2 separate regions of the Homo sapiens genome follow, and region 2 is linked to region 1. The links come from fine-mapping of genetic effects on gene expression. Tissue or cell type: whole blood. Region 1 holds a variant in brackets; the other region holds the start of a gene. All regions are shown on one strand. Distances are between the middles of the regions.

Region 1 (4,240 bases):
CTCTAAAACTGAGCCTCACCTTGCATGAGCCCTCTCTTCTAAACAACTTTTCAAAACATCATTTCTCAAGCCCAGTTTTACTTTCCTGAATACATGCTGTTCCCCTTCCCTGGCAAGCTTTTCTCTCCTTCTAAGTTTGGGAAGCAAGATTTTTCCACTAAAACCCAGCAGAAGCTTTCCCTCCTTGAAATCTTTCAACTCCACTGTGGACTCTCACTTTCATGATCTAGGCTAGTATTTCTCTATCTAAGTGTGCTAGGCATCAGTGGGAATAGGAAAAGAAGAGTTTCTGCTGAAAATCTTTCTTAACCCCAAGTCCAGTTGTCACCTTTACTGGTAGAAGTATATTTGCCTGGTGGTACCATCCTGGCCCACAGCAGTGATTCCCAAATACTGATCCACTAAGTTGTGCCAAACTGTTTTCATCAGTATCACCTGGGAAGCTTTATATAATACAAAATGCCAGGTCATGCCTCCTCCAATTCCTCTCCCTTCTCAGAATTTATACCCCTGTTCTCCCATGCCCTACCCAGAAATTTAATTCAAGAGGTCTGGGGTAGAGCCTAAGAATTATTTTTTCAAAACCTCTCTGTATAATTCTGATGGCACAGTTGGCTGCAATAACCTTTGGTCTTGACACTATTTTGATCATGAGTCATGAAATGTATCACATTGTCCTTTGTACTGGTTTGACTTTATGACTTTTGTGTTTTGATTTGACTTTTCAAGTCCTTATGCGTTATTTTCCAATTAGATTTTAAGAGCCTTGCAAATAGGGATCTTATCCAACTCATCATTATTTTTCCTCCTTACTGTTCAAATATCTAGAATAGCATTTTGCACATACTGAATGTAAAAATATATATGTATATAGTTGTCGATTTGAAAATAAATTACCAAATATACTCACGATATTCTTGGTCTCATGTCTTTTTTTTTTTTTTTTTTTTTTTTTGGAGGTAGGGGGAGACGGAGTCCCACTCTTGTCGCCCAGGCTGGAGTGCAGTGGTGCGATCTCGGTTCACTGCAACCTCTGCCTTCCGGGTTCAAGCGATTCTCCTGCTTCAGCCTCCCGAGTAGCTGGGATGACAGGTGCCCACCGCAACACCCAGCTAATTTTTGTATTTTTAGTAGAGACGGGATTTCACCATGTTAGTCAGGCTGGTATTGAATGCCTGACCTCAGGTGATCCTCCCGCCTCGGCCTCCCGAAGTGCTGGGATTACAGGCATGAGTCACTGTGCCTGACCTTGGTCTCATGTCTTTAAAGTTGTCATTACCTTCTAAAGTTTGTAAAGGCTAAAGCTACAAAAAATTTCAAGTATTATACTATAAACACTGTGTATATAAAAATCCCAGTTTCACCTGGTTTCACATGGTTAATAACATTTGACTCAACTCTTAGTGCCTTCCCCAACATAAGCATGCTGTTCTTAACCACGGAAAAATTATAATAATTATGCAAGTGAAGATTTTGCATGTTTGTTTATTATGGCATCCACTCAGTAATCCACGTTCCCCTAGAGAATCTTGTGTAAGAAGTTTTAGTTCTAAAAAATTGCAGAAACAAGCCCCTCAGTGATCTAATTAGAAATGTTAGCAATCCTAGACCTCAAAGCAAAACAAACAAAATTCTTCCTCTTTTGCTAATCACAAAATAAAGGGAACTCTATTTTCTCTCTCTTCTACCACTTCCAACCAACACATGCCACTAGTTAATATCTGTTCCTCTAAGTGTACCCCATCCCCCACAAAAC[A/G]GGAAACTCAAGAAGTTTTTCACTTTTTCTCTGCGTTCCACATTAGTGTGTAATACGAATTAACATATCTTTAAATCTCCACCATCAGAGAGATTAGGTGATCTAATCTACCTGGACAGGGCATTTGTCATTAGTCTTTAATGACTTGACAGAATCTTAACAGATCCTAACAGAGGGAAAAGCTGCAGGCCCAAGTTGGTAGCTTCAAGTTTTGTTTTGTTTTCTTTCTGCTTTTTAGAGTCTGAAAAGTCTCTAATCTCCTAAAGATGTTGAAGATTTTTTTTTAGTGGCATCTAGAGTCCTCAGTTAAGCATAATCTTTCTTCTAACATAGGATTCACATGGTAATCTATTTTTATGCAATTATTTGATAGGCTATGAAATATATTTCCATCTTTACAGAATGTGACCATGGGAAGCAGATGCTGTCATGATAAGTAAAAGTAAATCAATGAGATAATACCACTCCTCCTATCCAGAGTGTGTGTCACACTGCACTTTCATTTTCTGTCAAGTTTTTGGGAGTTAAATATTTTGCTTATCATAACATCGTAAAGGGGAAGTTTGTATATCTAAGAGAACATTCTGTTTTATATAGTTGTGAGGAGCATTCCCACAAACACAGGGGTGGGAAATAGGCTGAACTTCTTTAATTTCCTATTTCAATGATATTTTTGATAACAGATTTATACATGGAATGGAGCCACTCAGTAATCTATGTGTCAAAGTTCACTGTGGACCTTATATTCATACCTGGAGCAAGGACTCCCAGTACCAACATAGCTTGGCATATGTCCTTTCTCATCTGTGGCACACCACTTAAGATAAATATTCCTTCTTATTTTTCCCATAATATAATGATAAAAGTGGTAGCCCTTGAGAGATTGAAGTAGGTATACCTCTTTACTTTGTGTTTTCTTGGTTTGCTTGTGATTCATCCTAAGCCAGAGGATAGCAGGCAATTCATTTAGTTTGCATCTATGTATAGTTTTCTCTTCCCTGAGACTTCACTGGTGTGTCTTCCTGTCTATGTGGCTATGGTTTTCCATGCATTGTGATATGGCTTTTACTTTCAACTGCTGTATTTAAATCACTGCTCCCTATAAATTCATTTATCACGCAAATGTGAATGGTACTAAGTTGCTGTCCTTTTTTTTTTTAAACAAACCTCAGGAGATGTTTATTTCCCCTGTTAGAAAAATCAGCTTCCAAACGTCAGTACCACATCTGTAAAATGGGTAGTGTCCCCATGGCATTATTATATGCTACTACTGGTTCTCACTGAAAGAAGATGTTTGTATGCTATGACACTAAAATAAAAGCTGAAAAAAAGTTCTAACATTTTATACGAATACAAATATATTCATTAGAAAACAACCTTTAACAGTATTTTATAGGTGAATGTAATGCACATTTAAAAATTCAATAAAATTTTTAGTATTGGTGTTTGTATAGCACTATGTAATGAGAAAGGCCATGAACCTGAGTTAAGAGTTGAGAATTTCCCCTCTAATATGATTATTAAGTCCAGCCAGTAAATCTGTTCCCTACTAGTCCAGCTCTCCCCAGGCACCAGTGATTATTTTTGGCAGCAGGCTGTTTCCTCCTTGAGTGCTTCCTATATAACTCCCCTCACCATGAGGACATGATCTGTGATAATTTTTTCATTCTGGGTAGATTAGATCATTCCATATTTTATGTTATCAGGAAATCAGTAACTTGGGAGTCAAGAAATTCTGAACCACAAAAGGCAAATGGATATGTGTCTCAGGATTCACCAGACTAGAGGCAAATGCAGACTTGAACCTTCTATTTCCTTTCATTATCCTATTTGAAGAGCCCTGGGGTTTTGTTAGAGTTTAATTTTACTCTTAATTTTTTTATTTTAAAAATAATGGCCCATTTTGAAGTTTATCAAACAATACAGAATTTTAGTTAATAAAAAGTTAAAGTTTCAAAAGCTATCTTTCTTAAGATAAACCCTAGTGTTCAAAATTGCTAACCTATTTCTTTTCTAGCTTTGTGGCAAATGAATTTTTCTGCATATAATATTAGACTGGAAATGTTAGTCTTGGTTAACAACTGAAGTACTTGGTGAAAATAGCATGAATTTACTTCTGATGATCCATATGCATTTTCCTGTTAAGACCTGCCTAGCTCTCTCCCTTAGTCCTCTCCTGATTTGTTTACTTATCACTCAGATGTCTGGACCAACATGGCAAACTTCTGATCTTTGCTGTACCAAACTTAAATAATAGCAAATCTGGACTGAGACTATTATTTTCCTACAGACAGTTTACATAGGGATAATTATTGAATTTTTAAAGACACCTTTTTTTTTTTCTTTTGAGGCAGGGGGTCTCACTCTGTTGCCCAGGCTGCAGTGTAGTGTCGCGATCACAGCTGACTGCAGCATCAACCTCCTGGGCTCAAGCCATCCTCCTGCCTCAGCCTTCCAAGTAGCTGGGACTACAGGAGCACACCA
Region 2 (4,240 bases), 96 kb after region 1:
ATTTCTTCTTATCAGGACACCAGTCATCTTGGATCAGGGGCCACTCATATTATCTCATTTTACCTTAATTACCTCTTTAAAGGCCCTATCTCCACATACGGTCATACTCTGAGTTCCTGAGGGTTAGAATTTCAACGTATGAACTGGAAAAGAACACAACTGAGCCCATAACAACCGCCATCCCTGGTCGGAATGTGTCATTCAAGGATGGTCAACTTAATGAACTGTGTGGTCAGAAGCAATGACCACAGAATGACCATCAGGTCACCTGGAGATTTCCTACTCAAGGGAATGAGAGCAGGAACATATATCTTTGACACGGTGATGAATGAGTTTAGGTAAATGAGGTGGATGGAGGAATGTATTGACTTCTGAATTTTCCTGCAAGGCCACAGATGTACTGCCTCCTCCTCAGCACCAGGAATTCCTTGTTACTTGAACCACAGTGCCTGAGACCAAGTAAGTGTAGTTGAATGTCCTTGGGATAGTGTGGTAAGTCCTAGTTAACAAATCTGACATCAGGCACAAGGGTTAACAATCTATTTAGGGTCATAAAAGAAACACAAACTATCAGCCCTGCACCAAAGAACATAAGGCAGAGGTGATCAGGCTGGGAACAGAAAGTAGGAATCAGCAGAGTTCTGATTCCTGAAGAGGGTAACCTTCTTAAAGTCAGAAACTGATGAACAGGTATGGATGAGGAGGATGGTGATAAGCTGGAGCTAAGGCAGAAGCAGGAAAATGCAAGACATGACAATATCCCTAGGAGGCTGGCTGGTTACAGCAGAGGTATTGTGACCAAGAGGACTGGCTTACAGTGGTGCCAGAGAGAGAAAAGTCTGTGTCTAGGTGTGAAGTGATCTGGGACTGGATTAGTGACGGGGAGTATGGGGTGAGTGTGAGAAGATTGCTAAAAGCTGGCAATTGATGAAATGTTGAAATTAAGGAGGTCCAAAGTTAAACACACAACCCCAAAACCACCATAATGATGTAATCCTGTGACCCCCAAGAGGTTACTAGTTTTGGTACTGGTGCTGAGACCTCTGGAATGCAACACCTATGCTCATGAAAGAAAAGATGGGAACAGTCTCATTGCTTACGGATTCTTATACCCCAGAAAAGTTAATTCCAGTGTGTGGCATTTTATTTTCATCCTAACTTTAGGCTTCTCTAGTCAGCCCAATTGTTAGCAACAAGAAATTAGATAGATGGAAGCAATATTCTCCATTTGACAAGGTTTAGGGGCAAGACATTATTAACCTGGGAGGAGGAGTTAACCTAAGTAACAACAAACAGACTTCATAAAAGGGCTGTGATGCATTCTATACCTTTATCTTGGGGAAAATGCAGTAGGAAAGGGAAACAGCTAGCTTCACAGGAATTTGCTTGGCTTACTGGGATAGAACAAGAAAACCTGTCCTTTATATGCTAACTGAACATTAAGTCTTTTGAAAGCAAGAGGACGACTCCACTCCCAGTATCCTTTCCCACGGAAGGGTTTTCTGCAATTATCGTAAATGTCCTCTGAAAGCAATCCTAGATTACATAACTAATCCCATATATGTATGAGTATGTGTGTATCCTATACATATAAACTAGGATTATATATCTATGTAAAACATTTGTGTCTTGCACAGAACTTTGAAAATTTCCACTGTCTTCAAAGGATAACAGATCTTGAGTAGGTTGCTGAGGGCTTTCATCTTTTTCCTTAGCACTATAAATGCAAAATCGGCTATTCAGCCTATTGGGACCCTCCCTACACTGCCTTCAGTCAGTGCCTCAGAAGGGACACCATTCGCGACAGCGGACGTTAGCAGTGGGGTCTAGGTTCCATAAATCCCCAACTGATGTTGACACTCCGAGGAACCTCTGCCAAGTTGTAGCAAACTGGGTTCTCCACTTACAGGGTACGTTCCGGTCCTAAGGAAGACTCTCAAGAAGAGTCAGAAAATAGGTCTTTGGTAGGCACTGAAGTTTGGTAACTAGTCGCAGGCAGCTGGGACGAATTTTGCGGCTTCCTTCTCCCCGGTCTCCGGATATTCACACCTCTCGAACTGACCTCTCTGAAGGTGGGAAGGAGTACACAGAGCAGTAGTTCCAGCCCCGCGCGCCCCCTCTGCAGCGCCGCCCCCTCCGCCCCTCCCTCGCGGCAGCCCGAGTGCGCCCCACCTGCGCCGCCACGCCGCCGCGCCTCCCCGCCCCGCCTCGGGCCAGCCAGGCGCCGCACCCTCTCACCGCCGGGCCCCGCCCCGCACACGCGCCCCCGGCCGGTGCCCCGCCCCTCCCGTCACGTGACAGACCCACCCTCCGCACCCGTTCCGATTGGCTCTCCCGACCTAGGGGGAGGGATCTGGCGAACGGCGATGCCCCAGACGCGGCTGCAGTTTTCAAACCGCGACTGCAAGCTTCGGTAGTCCTCTCCGCTGCTGTCGCCAGGAGTCACTTCACGAGAAGCCAGGTCACAACCGTCGGCCCTTGTCTGGAAAAGTAAAAGTGGATCCTGCCACGTTCGGAGCTCCCTGGCGCCTCGCCCGGCTGGAGCTAGAGAACTCGTCCTGTGGCGGCCCCCGGCGTGGGGCGGGACAGCGGCCCCCTGGAGGGGGCAGTCCCGGGAGAACCTGCGGCGGCCGGAGCGGTTAGTGTCCTGCGGGATTGGCGGGTTGGCTCGGGGCTGCGATGGAACCAGCCGCCTCGGTACAGAGACCTCATACGTGAGGAAGGAGGACCCGAGGAGGGTTTAGGCGGTACGGTCCGGCTGAGAGGGGCTTGGACTCCGCCGCCCCTGAGGTGGCTGATTGCTGCTGGCGCCTCTCCGCTTTGCGGCTGGAGTCCGGGTTCCCTGGGGCTCCGCGCGGGGGGCGGCCGGCGGTCCTCCCACCACCCTCCTCAGCCCGGGGCGCGTGTCTGTGTCTGTGCGTGTCCGTGTGTCCCCGTGCGCCCTCCACCCGGCCGGCCCCGGCTCTCCCCAGGTCGCGCCAGGCAGGGCCCCCTTCGCGGCGGGCCCGCGCGGGTCCCTTCCACAGCAAGGCCACGCGGTCCCCCTAGCCTCTCCCGAGTCCCAGCTGCGGCGTGGGCGCGTTCCCATCGGGACTCGTGGACGCGTCCTGCTCCCAGCTGCCTTTCGTCTAGAGAAAGTTCGTGTTCATCTTGTGGGACGTTTTCAGTTACTGCTTGGGAACAGTGTTTTAAAACCAGCGAGAGATCAAGACGGGCTACAGCTGTTTCCGTGATTTTCAGCGATCTGATTTTTGCTTTGATGCCTTGTGACCCACTTAGTGTGCACGACTCATCCTCAAACTATACCACTACTGGATGCCAACGATTTTTGACATTTACCCAGGCTCTTTGTTTTATTGTAGGGAAAAGCGTTTCATTTGAATTTCCTCCGAGGGAGAAGTAGAGACAAAGTTGAAAGAGGCTTTATAGCAGCTGGTAGCTGGCATTAGTTTCTGTCTGGACTAGAGGCACTCTGACATCAATTTGGAAATTGGAATTAAGAAAATACGTTTTTAAAATCGTAATACTTATCAGATTTCACTAATATTTAAACACATGAGGACTGTGTATCACATTCACCGATTGTTTTGTCGACGTAATGTTTACATCTGTGGTGCTAATGATAAGCAGAACCTTGCCAGGGACGTTTGACGTGGTGTGGCCACTTTACGTTTTCAAGTCTATGAGAATGTCTGCGCGGAGACAGCATAGCTCTGTAGAAATGAGTGGCAGCGTATGTAACCTGGCATTTTGAACCCAGGAGCACAATTTTATTAAAGGAAAATAAACCTACTTTCTCATTGATAACACTGTTTTTTAGTTTTATGGTGAACTGTTCGGAAGTAATTTTCAACAAGTGCTTATTTTATAAATATTAGACCGTGTACCCCTAGGATTGTGTATTTTTTAAGAAAACTGGTCCATAGAAGCGGTGCAAAAGTTTTAAACTCATCTGCCTCGGATCCTCCTCCTCTGAGCAGATGCTCAATTAAACTTTTTCTAGTATCTTAATAATTGGAGGTATTAATAGATGTTTTATTTTTGAGATACATATTGTACATTTTAGATCTTTTTTTTTTTCTAAAGTAGGGATCCAAAATTGAGGTGAAATATATTTGCTTACATGGCAAGACTTTTTAAAAGTAGAATTTCTGTAATTGAAGACCATCCTTTTTTGTGTGTGAATAGAATGGTTGCGGTTTCTCTTGGGATCATTGATTAGTGAATTACGATTTGGTTA

Evidence for each region. PIP is the estimated chance that this variant, and not a neighbour inherited with it, causes the effect.
Region 2: STK17B starts here. The variant in region 1 is fine-mapped to the expression of STK17B in whole blood (TOPMed, PIP 0.97).

What each region holds. Positions count from the first base shown.
Region 1 is chr2:196,266,212-196,270,451 of GRCh38, reverse strand. All of the region lies in intron 17 of HECW2 (HECT, C2 and WW domain containing E3 ubiquitin protein ligase 2), which reads left to right. Among named protein-coding and RNA genes, the nearest start is that of HECW2-AS1, 8.3 kb to the right of the region's middle. The variant A/G (reference allele first, on the strand shown) is at 1,757.
Region 2 is chr2:196,169,731-196,173,970 of GRCh38, reverse strand. STK17B (serine/threonine kinase 17b) reads left to right here and starts at 2,393. Exons shown (of 8, transcript NM_004226.4): 1 at 2,393-2,638. It overlaps LOC101927454 (a long non-coding RNA gene), which reads right to left and starts at 2,432. Exons shown (of 2, transcript XR_923737.2): 1 at 2,340-2,432; 2 at 1,123-2,066. RefSeq lists silencers at 2,098-2,327, 2,848-3,067.